Homo sapiens: one gene and its partners. The protein of the gene in region 3 purifies or fractionates together with the protein of the main gene of each other region. This does not show direct contact. Each region holds a gene or a part of one and is shown on either strand. Other genes may lie near its edges.

Region 1 (3,652 bases), 2.1 Mb from region 3:
GACCCCCAGAATGAACACGTGAGGAACAGACCTGAGCCCAGCCCAGAGCAAGGAAGACCCCAGCTGAGCCAGACCGGCGGCCTGAGCAGAGCTGCCCAACCAAGTCCAGTTTAGATAAGCCACTTGCCGTCAACCCAAAGACCATGAGCCTGGGAGTAAATGTTTGTTTGCCACTGAGATTTTGTGGCACACGGCAAAATAGTTATGCAGCAAAAGCCCACTGGGCCAGCTGTATCTCTCATTGTGTCTCCACAGCTCTGTTTCTGTCTGCATCTGCTCTACAATAAACAAGATACATCAGAGGCTTGAGGGGAGGAGAGGCTTGAAGGCAGACTGAGGACATGGAATTAGTGGACCTGAGTAAGAGAATGGCAGTGAGGACAGACAGAGGTAGGAGGTGGAATTTACAAGACTTGATGTCTGATGGGAGAATGGCAGTGAGGATAGACAGAGGTAGGAGGTGGAATTTACAAGACTTGATGTCTGATGGGAGAATGGCAGTGAGGATAGACAGAGGTAGGAGGTGGAATTTACAAGACTTGATGTCTGATGGGAGAATGGCAGTGAGGATAGACAGAGGTAGGAGGTGGAATTTACAAGACTTGATGTCTGATGGGAGAATGGCAGTGAGGACAGACAGAGGTAGGAGGTGGAATTTACAAGACTTGATGTCTGATGGGAGAATGGCAGTGAGGACAGACAGAGGTAGGAGGTGGAATTTACAAGACTTGATGTCTGATGGGAGAATGGCAGTGAGGATAGACAGAGGTAGGAGGTGGAATTTACAAGACTTGATGTCTGATGGGAGAATGGCAGTGAGGACAGACAGAGGTAGGAGGTGGAATTTACAAGACTTGATGTCTGATGGGAGAATGGCAGTGAGGATAGACAGAGGTAGGAGGTGGAATTTACAAGACTTGATGTCTGATGGGAGAATGGCAGTGAGGATAGACAGAGGTAGGAGGTGGAATTTACAAGACTTGATGTCTGATGGGAGAATGGCAGTGAGGATAGACAGAGGTAGGAGGTGGAATTTACAAGACTTGATGTCTGATGGGAGAATGGCAGTGAGGATAGACAGAGGTAGGAGTTGGAATTTACAAAACTTGATGTCTGATGGGAGAATGGCAGTGAGTACAGACAGAGGTAGGAGGTGGAATTTACAAGACTTGATGTCTGATGGGAGAATGGCAGTGAGGACAGACAGAGGTAGGAGGTGGAATTTACAAGACTTGATGTCTGATGGGAGAATGGCAGTGAGGATAGACAGAGGTAGGAGGTGGAATTTACAAGACTTGATGTCTGATGGGAGAATGGCAGTGAGGATAGACAGAGGTAGGAGGTGGAATTTACAAGACTTGATGTCTGATGGGAGAATGGCAGTGAGGATAGACAGAGGTAGGAGGTGGAATTTACAAGACTTGATGTCTGATGGGCTATAGGGGACGTGAGAGAGGGAAAAATCAAGGATGACACCCAGGTTTCCATTCTTTAAACTAGAAACACAGAGGAGAAGCGGAGTAGATTTAAAAAAAATACGAAGCTCCTCTTTTCATGCGCGTCCGTGTGAAGAGACCACCAAACAGGCTTTGTGTGAGCAATAAAGCTTTTAATCACCTGAGTGCAGGTGGACTGAGTCCGAAAAGAGAGTCAGCGAAGGGAGATAAGGGTGGGTCCGTTTTATAGGATTTGGGTAGATAAAGGAAAATTACAGTCAAAGGGGGGTTGTTCTCTGGCAGTCAGAGTGGGGGTCACAAGGTGCGCAGTAGAGGAGCTTTTGAGCCAGGATGAGCCAGGAGAAGGAATTTCACAAGACAATGTCATCAGTTAAGGCAGGAACCGGCCATTTTCACTTCTTTTGTGGTGGAATGTCATCAGTTAAGGCAGGAACCGGCCATCTGGATGTGTATGTGCAGGTCACAGGGGACATGATGGCTTAGCTTCGGCTCAGAGGCCTGACATTCCTGTCTTCTTATATTAATAAGAAAAATAAAATGAAATAGTGGTAAAGTGTTGGGACGGTGAAAATTTTTGGGGGTGGTGTGGAGAGATAATGGGCGATGTTTCTCAGGGCTGCTTTGATTAGGGGCAGCGTGGGAACCTCGAGTGGGAGAGATTAAGCTGAACGAAGATTTTGTGGTAAGGGGTGATATTGTGGGGTTGTTAGAAGAAACATTTGTCGTGTAGAATTATTGGTGATGGCCTGGATATGGCTTTGTATGAATTGAAAAACTAAATGGAATAAGAGAAGGAGAAAAACAGGTATAAAAGGTCTAAGAATTGGGAGGACCTAGGACATCTGATTAGAGAGTGCCTAAGGAGATTCAACATAGTCCTGCCAGCAAAGATTATTTATTTACTTCAAGAGTTTAGAGTGGCAGTTTGGGGATAGCACCAGGAGATATCAGCTGTGATGGCTTGGAGAAACAGTGTAAACCGGCAGTGTAAACAAGAGCAGGACATGTATGAGTAGTTGAGAATGGTGAATAGGAGTATGACTAGACAGAAGATAGTAGGGATGACAAGTTCTTTTGGGGCACAGTCTAAGTTGGTCTGGTGTCTGGAATTAGACTGGGGCCTAATAAAAAGGAGCGTCTATACAGGAGCTCAAATGGGCTGTATCTTGTAGCATTCTGAGGACACGTCTGACTTCTGAGAAGGGAAAGTGGTAGAAGTATTATCCAGTCCTTTTTAAGTTGGTGGCTGAGCTTGATGAGGTGTGTTTTTAAAAGACCTTTAGTCCGTTCTACTTTTCCTGAAGACAGAGGACCGTAAGGGATATAAAGGTTTCACTGAATACTAAGAGCCTGAAAAACTGCTTGGCTGATTTGACTAGTAAAGGCTGGTCTGTTTTCAGACTGTATAGAGGTGGGAAGGCTAAACTGAGGAATTATGTCTGACAGAAGGGAAGAAATGACTGCGGTGGCCTTCTCAGACCTTGTAGGAAAGGCCTGTACCTATCCAGTGAAAGTGTCTACCTAGACTAAGAGGTATTTTAGTTATCTGACTCAGGGCATGTTGAGTAAAGCTAATTTGCCCGTCCTGGGTGGGGGCAAATCCTCGAGCTTGATGTGTAGGGAAGGGAGGGGGCCTGAATGATCCCTGAGGAGTAGCAGAATAGCAGATGGAACACTGAGAAGTTATTTCCTTGAGGATAGATTTCCACGATGGAAAGGAAATGAGAGGTTCTAAGAGGCGGGCTGGTGGCTTGTTCTATAGCATAGCCTGCCTTTGCTGGTGTGTGGCGATTAAGCCTGGTGGAGCTGCCATCAATAAATCAAGCGTGATCAGGGTGAGGAACAGGAAAGAAGGAAATATGGGGAAATGGGGTGAATGTCAGGTGGATCAGAGACATACAGTCATGGGGGTCAGGTGTGGTATCAGGAATAATGTGGGAGGCCGGATTGAAGTCCGGGCCAGGAACAATGGTAATTGTGGGACTTAACATAGAGTGAGTACAGCTGAAGGAGCTGGGGGATCAGAAAGTATATGCATCAGGTATGAGGAAGAAAATAGATTTTAGAAGTTATGAGAAATGTGAAGAGTGAGCTAAGCATAGTTTGTGATTTTTAGGGCCTCTAAAACTATTAAAGCAGCGGCAGCCGCTGCACGCAGACATGAGGGCTAGGCTAAAACGTAAGGGCAAGTTGTT
Region 2 (3,652 bases), on a different chromosome or scaffold from region 3:
GTTTCACCGTGTTAGTCAGGCTGGTCTTGAACTCCCGACCTCAGGTGATCTGCCCACCTTGGCCTCCCAAAGTGCTGGGATTAGAGGCGTGAGCCACCGTGCCTGGCCAAAAAATGTTTCCTAAATAAAGTTTTATCAGAAGTTCCAACAGTGACTGTATGGCCTGCAAACCTAAAATATTCGCTATCCGATCCTTTAAGGAAATGTTTGCCAGCCCCTGCTGTAATGAGGAAAGGATACAGACAGGAGTCAGGCAGACCTGATTGTGTCAGGGACTTCCTGTATGCCTTTGGGCAGGTTGCTTCACCTCTCTGAGCTTCAGCCTCCACATTCCTGAAGTTGTAAATGTGCTGACCTAATAGCACTGTTATGGGGTCATGGGAACTATTGTAGGTGGGTGTTTTTTTTGTTTTTTTGTTTTTTTCTCGAGACAGAGTCTTGCTCTGTCACTCAGGCTGGAGTGCAATGGTGCGATCTCGGCTCACTGCAACCCCCACCTCATGGGTTCGAATGATTATCCTGCCTCAGCCTCCCAAGTAGCTGGGATTATAGGCACCTGCAACCATACCCAGCTACTTTTTGTATTTTTATTAGAGACGGGGTTTCACCATTTTGGCCAGGCTGGTCTTGAACTCCTGACCTTGTGATCCGCCTGCCTCGGCCTCCAAAAGTTCTGGGATTACAGGTGTGAACCACTGTGCCCAGCAGGTGGGTGCTCATTTAATTAGAGGAATCATTTCTCATAAGCATCAACTTTTGAGTATGTTATATAAAGAAATATAAACAAATAAGAGCTGTTACCTCTCAGTCTAGATTCCTTTCTTTTAGATACTTATGTAACTTCTTTGTTTTCTTTTCTTTTTTTTTTTTTTTTACTTTTTAGTTTTTTGTAGAGATGAGATCTTGCTTATGTTGCCCAGGTTGGTCTTGAACTCCTCAGCTATAGCAGTCCTCCCACCTCAGCTTCCCAAAGTGTTGGGATTATAGGTGTAAGCCACCACACCTGGCCACTTATTTATTTTTCTTTTTTCTTTTTTTTTTTTTTTGAGATGGAGTCTCACTCTGTCACCCAGGCTGGAGTGCAGTGGCACAATCTCGGCTCACTGCAAGCTCCACCTCCTGGGTGCACGCCATTCTCCTGCCTCAGCCTCCTGAGTAGCTGGGACTACAGGCGCCTGCCACCATGCCTGGCTAATTTTTTTTTGTATTTTTTAGTAGAGACGGGGTTTCACCGTGTTAGCCAGGATGGTCTTGATCTCCTGACCTCCTGATCCGCCCGCCTCGGCCTCCCAAATTGCTGGGATTACAGGTGTGAGCCACCACGCCTGGCCTTTTTTTCTTGTCTAATTGCATAGGCTAGAATCTCTAAAACAGTGGTGCTCAACTTGCCTGGCTGTTCAATCTTGCCTTTCTTCCTGGATAAAGGAGAGAATGAGGCCACTTGGTAGTGGTCAAGCCCTGGGGACCAAGCCTTCCATGGAGGGGTTCTTGGTAAGTTTTAGGTTGTATTACCTGCCCTTTAAGCAGGAGTGAATTACAGTAACCCATGCCTTTGTAAATGCCTAGAATTTACAGGATTCCGATGAGCGCTTCCTGAATGCACAGTGTTCTCCAGGGCAGTTGATTTTTTAACTTAGTCTAAGGCAGTGGTTCTCAGCTGGGGGTAATTCTGCCCACCAGGGCACGCTTGGCAACTACTGAAGACATTTTTGACTGTCATGATCAACACTAGATTGTGTAGTTGCATCCAGTGGGCAGAAGCCAGGGATGCTACTAAACATCCTATAGCCCCTCACAGAAAAAAAATAACCTGGCCAAACACGATAGTGCTGGGATTGAACAACACTGCTTTTTTTTTTTTTTTTTTTTTTTTGGGCAGAGTCTCACTCTGTTGCTCAGGCTGGAGTGCAGTGGTGTGATCTTGGCTCACTGCAACCTCTGCCTCCCAGGTTCAAGTGATTCTCCTGCCTCACACCCCCGAGTAGCTGGGATTACAGGCACACACCATCATGCCTGGTTAATTTTTTGTACTTTTAGTAGAGATGGGGTTTCACCATGTTGGCCAAACTGGTGTTGAACTCCTGACCTCAAGTGATCTGCCTGCTTTGGCTTCCTAAAGTGCTAGGATTACAGGCGTAAGCCACTGCACCTGGCCTGAGCAACACTGCTTTAGAACAATGTGAAACAATATCAGTGATGACGGAAATCCCTGTCTGATTACATATGCTAATGGGAGTTTTCAGCCTGGTATAGCGGCTCATGCCTGTTACCCCACCACATCGGGAGGCCAAGGAGGGAGGATGGCTTGAGCCCAGGAGTTCAAGACCAGCCTGGGCAACATAATGAGACCCCCCCCCCATTCTCTATATAATTTTTTTTTGAACTTGAAAATTGGCCTGGTGCGTTGGCTCACGCCTGTAATCCCAGCGCTTTGGGAGGCCGAGGAGGGCGAATCACGAGGTCAGGAGATCGAGACCATCCTGGCTAACACGGTGAAACCCCGTCTGTACTAAAAAGACAAAAAATTAGCCAGGCATGGTAGCGGGTGCCTGTAGTCCCAGCTACTAGGGAGGCTGAGGCAGGAGAATGGCATGAACCTGGGAGGTGGAGCTTGCAGTGAGCCAGGATCACGCCACTGCACTCCAGCCTGGGGGACAGAGTGAGACTCCATCTCAAAAAAAAAAAAAAAAAAAAAAATTAAGGCTGAGCACAATGACTCACACCTGTAGTCCTAGCACTTTGGGAGGCTGAGGTGCAAGGATCACTTGAGCCCAGTAGTTAAAGAACATCTTGGGCAACATAGTGAGATGCCATCTCTATTTAAAAGAAAAAAAAATTTTAAAAATGTAAAAATTAAATTGAAAAATGGGATTTTTTTCAAGGAGAAAAATTAGGATTTTTGTTTGCTTTGTTTTGTTTTAGGAGATAAGGTTTTGCCATGTTGTCCAAACTCATCTCCAATGATCCATCCACAAAGTGCTGGGATTACAAATGTGCACCACCGCGCGTGGTGGCCCCTTTTTTTTTTTTCATGACGGAGTCTCCTTCTGTCGCCCAGGCTGGAGTGCAGTGGCACAATATGATCTTGGCTCACTGCAAGCTCCGTCTCCCGTGCTCATGCCATTCTCCTGCCTCAGCCTCCCGAGTAGCTGGGACTATAGGTGCCCACCACCACACCCAGCTAATTTTTTGTATTTTTAGTAGAGACAGGGTTTCACCGTGTTAGCCAGGATGGTCTCAATCTTCTGACCTCGTGATCCGCCCGCCTCAGCCTCCCAAAGTGCTGGGATTACAGGCGTGAGCCACCGCGCCCGGATTTTTTTTTCTTTTTTAAAGAGCGACAGGTTCTTGCCATGCTGCCCAGGCTGGAGTGCAGTGGTGTGATCACAGTTCACTGCAGCCTCGACCTCCCAGACTCAAGCAATCTCCTGCCTCAGCCCTTAAGTAGGTGGAACTATATGCGTGCACCTCCTCACCTAGCTAATGTTTGTACTTTTTGTAGAGCTAGGGGGTTCTCCCTATGTTGCCCAGGCTGGTCTCAAACTCCTTGCCTCAAGATATCCTCCCGCCTTGGCCCCCGAAAGCACTGGGATTACAGGTGTCAGTGGCATCTCAGAGTCTCCCTCTGTCGCCCAGGCTGGAGTGCAGTGAC
Region 3 (4,430 bases):
CAAAATGAAAATTAACAAACATTTAGCTAGATTAACTGAGGGGGGAAAAAAGAGAAAACTCAAATAAATAAAATGAAAATGAAAAAGGAGACATTACAACTGATACAACAGACATACAAAGGTTCATAAGAGACTACTATGAACAATTATACACCAATAAATTGAATAATGTAGAAAAAATGGATTATTTGACTCAGTAACATACCAAGACTGAAAGATGAAACAGAAAAGAAAGCCCAGAAAAAAGCCCATATATCTACAGCCAAAAAATTTTCAGCAAAGGTGCCAAGAACACACAATCAGGAAAGACAGTGTCTTCAATAAATGGTGTTGGGAAAACTGAATATCCACACTCAGAAGAAAAAAATTAGACCCTTATCTCATACCACATACAAAAATCAACTTAAAATAGATTAAAGACTTAAATGCCTGATGCTTATCTTAGTAACACTGAGATAGGATGTTACTTTCTTTGAAGAAGACTGTGGTTTCCAGAGTCCAGAATGAGCTATTGCCGTTAAACACCCTGATTTAGATACAGGATGTTTAACTTGCTTAATCAAGGCTATTAGTGATTAACTCAGAATGAAACATAGGTTTCCTTAGATCAGACTTTCACATATGCTCCATTAAAGCAAATCCCTTATAAACAGAATTAATGCAGAAGTTGTGGACTAACATGTAGTAGTTCAGTGATTTATTTTCTCATTTGTTTGATTTTGTATTTGTTTTCCTATTTCTTTGTTTTCCCTGTAGCAAGATGAGGCTTCATGTTTCTAGCATGTGACCTCTAATGCTCCTGCTTCTTAAAATTTCTTCCTTGTCCAGCATTGCAGTCATTGTGAAGGTAAATAGTAAGAAAGTTGTGTGGGATGATTTATATTTTTTTCTTTCAAAGGAGAAGGTAATTTGGTTACAAATACTATGCGGACTCACCCTGAGCCTACCCGACTTCTTTATTCTTGCTTGTGGTTCTGGGGAATTAAAAAAGGCAACAGAATGTAGGCACGCATTTGAGGTATAATAATAACAAAACATACCACATCAAGATATGCTGCAGCTTACGACCTTGTGTCAATCACAATTGCTTGTCCATCCTTGATGACAATGAGTTCCATTACCTGATGTAGATGTCCACGCCTCCAGTATCTGGTGAAGGGTGGAGTGATTGATCCTATCACTGTTGCATCCTGTGCGGCCTCCTCATCCCACGCTGGGCAGCCATTTGACACAAAATACATGTAGCATCCATGGTTGCCTCTGGCTGTTTACAACAGAAAACAGGCTCCTTTGAATTACCACTTTATCCTAACCTCCAGAAAATGTGGATGAATCAGGAACTGCTTAGAAGTTAGGAAAGCCAAGGAGACTTACTTTTTCACTTCCTTTTAACTTCCACGCTATACTTCTCTAGTGATGGCTTGGAACAGTATTTTTTCAAGGAATTCAGGAACCAGTACACAGAATAAAATCCTATCAGGCATCTGAACGACCTATCCTTGATTCTCTGGAGAGGAATGTCAGGATAAAGCTGGATCCAGAAAAGAGACTTCTAGATTCTCTTATGCTATTTTATCTTTTCTGTTGTTGCTCTAAAATGTTTTCCCAGAAATGTCAAATCAACCTTTTAATGACACAAAATGCTGTAATTGAATCTGAATGTCTCAAGTGTATGGACTCCAAATTAAACTGAACATATTTCATTTGTAAAATTAAAAAATATATATATATTATCGACTGTATCTGTGCCAGGCAATGTATCCTTTGGCACTTAGCAGAAGGACTTTCTCCATCTCTACTCTGGTGTTTTTAGGTTTACCTTGCACATAAATAGCAGATTTGCATATCAACTCCAATATTTATCCACACGACTAGACAAAAAAAAGTAATAGTAGTACTATTTGATTGTCTATATTTACCTGTTTAATATATTTGCTTAATATTTGAATTAACTGGTGAATTTAATCACACTCTTATAATGCATCTGCTAATTAAATAGTATCTAATCACTATCTAATCAAGACTCTTTGTTCAATAGCTTGCCAAAGATACAGAATTTTGTGCTGTCTACACTAAATACTGGTGAGGCACAACCCCATCTCTCTTAAACCAAACCAGAATTATTATTTGAAATTCACCTTTCTTCCTCCTTGCTACCTTCACATTTTCTCCATTTTTATGATGATGATAACTTGGGCACCAGTGCTCAAACAATTTATATTTATCCTGTCTCCTTACTGACCTGTGAGCTCTTTTAGTCTATGGGCCAAATCTGCCACCTATTTTATCCCATGAAAAAGGACAGTACCCAGCTTAAAAAAAGAATACTCAACAAATTGGAGTTGTATTGACTGACTCCAAGTTGTATGACCCAACTTAAGAAAAGGGAGGGACTGGGAAAGGATGGGCTAGTGACTTGAAGGGAAAAGTTTGTAGCTATTTGTTTTTTCCTGATTTAAGAGACAGTAAAGTTCTTACTGTCCACTTCTCTGACCCTGGCATTACAGCACATATTAAAAAAAAGAAGAAGAATAAATATAACGAGAGGAGTTCCTTAAATTCTAAAGGAGATTTTGAGGGCATCTAACCTGTACCTTGTCCACCAAGAACACATATCCCTTACAAGTACTATCTCTGCTTTGAATGTGGAATGAACATACTCTTCCTAATTTTCTCAGACTAAGAAATCACCAACAACATTTTCTGCAAGTCAGTGTCTTTGATCCTTATGATGACACAAACTGGCTAGAACAAGACAAGGCTTTGTCACACAATAATGTCTGGAAGGCAGAAATCTCTTACCCACAATATAGCTCCTGAGGAGAAGTGATGTGAAAGGTGTTCATGCCAGGGAGAGGGCCCAGGAATGCATGTGATGGCAGGACCCTGGCTTCAGCTTATAGAGTTTGGATCAGAAGTGCTTAGTCCAGCCGAGTTCCCACAGGAAACAGGCATAATCTCATATGCTCGAGAGTCTCAGTGTGAAACTGGGCTTCGGAGACCCCAGAGACCACAGAGCCCTAAGGGAAAGATTCCTATATGTGAGGGAAAAAACTTCTGTGACTATAGCTGGGCTCCAAAAAAGAGCAGTCAGGAAAGCAAATCCCATGCCACAGCTATCCCACCATTAGGACTAGAAGTTGGCAATTCGTGTCTAAGGCAATTAAAAATAAATAAAAGATGTATATGAGTGTGATATCATAAGTGTGTTGTTATTTATTATTGTTAATTCTAAAATAGTAAATGCTTATTAGTCGAAAAAGAAAAAAGTAACAATAAAGGCACTTCTGAATAGTACATACTTCAGATACTCAGAAACACTTGCTATTAGGATTTTGTGTGTTTTTATTTCCAGGTATGTGTAAATTTTTTTTGAAAATCACAGTTTTCAGAATATTCATAGTTTAGAGGATATTTTATCACGGTTTTTTCCATTATGTCATGAATATTTCACTCTTTCACTCCTCTGCAATATGTCAAAGTCAGCAAAGCTACTTTATGGCTATAAACTTTCCTTTACGTATTTTTAAAATTTAAAACATTGAGTTAATTTCCAATATGTTACAACTTGATGGTGAACATCAACACAATCATGATTAATTCCATTGGAAAATTTATAGACCTGAATAGATATTGAGTAAAAAATATGCTAATTTTAAAGCTTTTATGTTGCTAGACTTTTATCCCCCCAGAAAGATTGCACCAAAACTCTACTGTATGCTCTTGAACACAATCCAAGTATATATGCCACCTTATTCAGTAAGGTTCTCTATGAGTAACTGGTCTCCCCCAGCTATAGGTGCCAGATAATGGAAAGTAAAATAGAACAGGCCATAAGTAGATGTAAGTGGGACCAACCTTACCCATAGTCAGAATTGAGGGTCATTGTTACGTTGGATTTCTTGGTGTGCTGAAATTACGATTTAACTTCCCGATAAACTACCTTTCTGAGCGTGAAGATTTTCTACTTAACATTCAGTAATTTCAGGGCCAGCTGTGGTGGCTCACACCTGTAACCCCAGCACTTTGGGAGGCGGAGGCGGGCAGATGGCTTGAGGTCAGGAATTCAGGACCAGCCTGGCCAACATGGTGAAACCTCAGATCTACTAAAAATACAAAATTAGCAGGGCGTGGTGGCAGGCACCTGTAATCCCAGCTACTCGGAAGGCTGAGGCAGGAGAATTGCTTGAACCTGGGAGGCAGAGGTTGCAGTGAGCCAAGACTGCACCATTGCACTCTAGCCTGGGCGACAAGCAAGGCTCCGTCTCCAGAAAAAAAAAAAAAAAATTCAGTAATTTTGATAAGCATTGTAGTTTCTCAGCCTCCACTTTTTAAATATGAACAAACAAGTTATCAGTAACCTAGTTTATTCAAATCATTTTCTTTAATTATTCATTCAAGAAAATAACTATCAAGAAAATTAAAAGAAA

Evidence for each region.
Region 1: the proteins of OR52N5 (region 3) and ART1 purify together in Homo sapiens (affinity purification with mass spectrometry; one large-scale study listed by BioGRID and IntAct). This does not show direct contact.
Region 2: the proteins of OR52N5 (region 3) and ABHD8 purify together in Homo sapiens (affinity purification with mass spectrometry; one large-scale study listed by BioGRID and IntAct). This does not show direct contact.

What each region holds. Positions count from the first base shown.
Region 1 is NC_000011.10:3,651,537-3,655,188, reverse strand, and holds part of ART1 (GPI-linked NAD(P)(+)--arginine ADP-ribosyltransferase 1 precursor), read right to left. Parts: intron 1-3,652. UniProt on the Homo sapiens protein: Has ADP-ribosyltransferase activity toward GLP1R.
Region 2 is NC_000019.10:17,296,887-17,300,538, forward strand, and holds part of ABHD8 (protein ABHD8), read right to left. Parts: intron 1,492-3,652; exon of another isoform or gene 1,426-1,491; intron 1-1,425. UniProt on the Homo sapiens protein: Negatively regulates NLRP3-driven inflammation. Promotes NLRP3 degradation through the chaperone-mediated autophagy (CMA) pathway, hence attenuating inflammasome activation and IL1B secretion.
Region 3 is NC_000011.10:5,780,493-5,784,922, forward strand, and holds the start of OR52N5 (olfactory receptor 52N5), read right to left. Parts: upstream 2,864-4,430; 5' UTR 2,803-2,863; intron 1,265-2,802; 5' UTR 1,041-1,264; intron 1-1,040. UniProt on the Homo sapiens protein: Odorant receptor.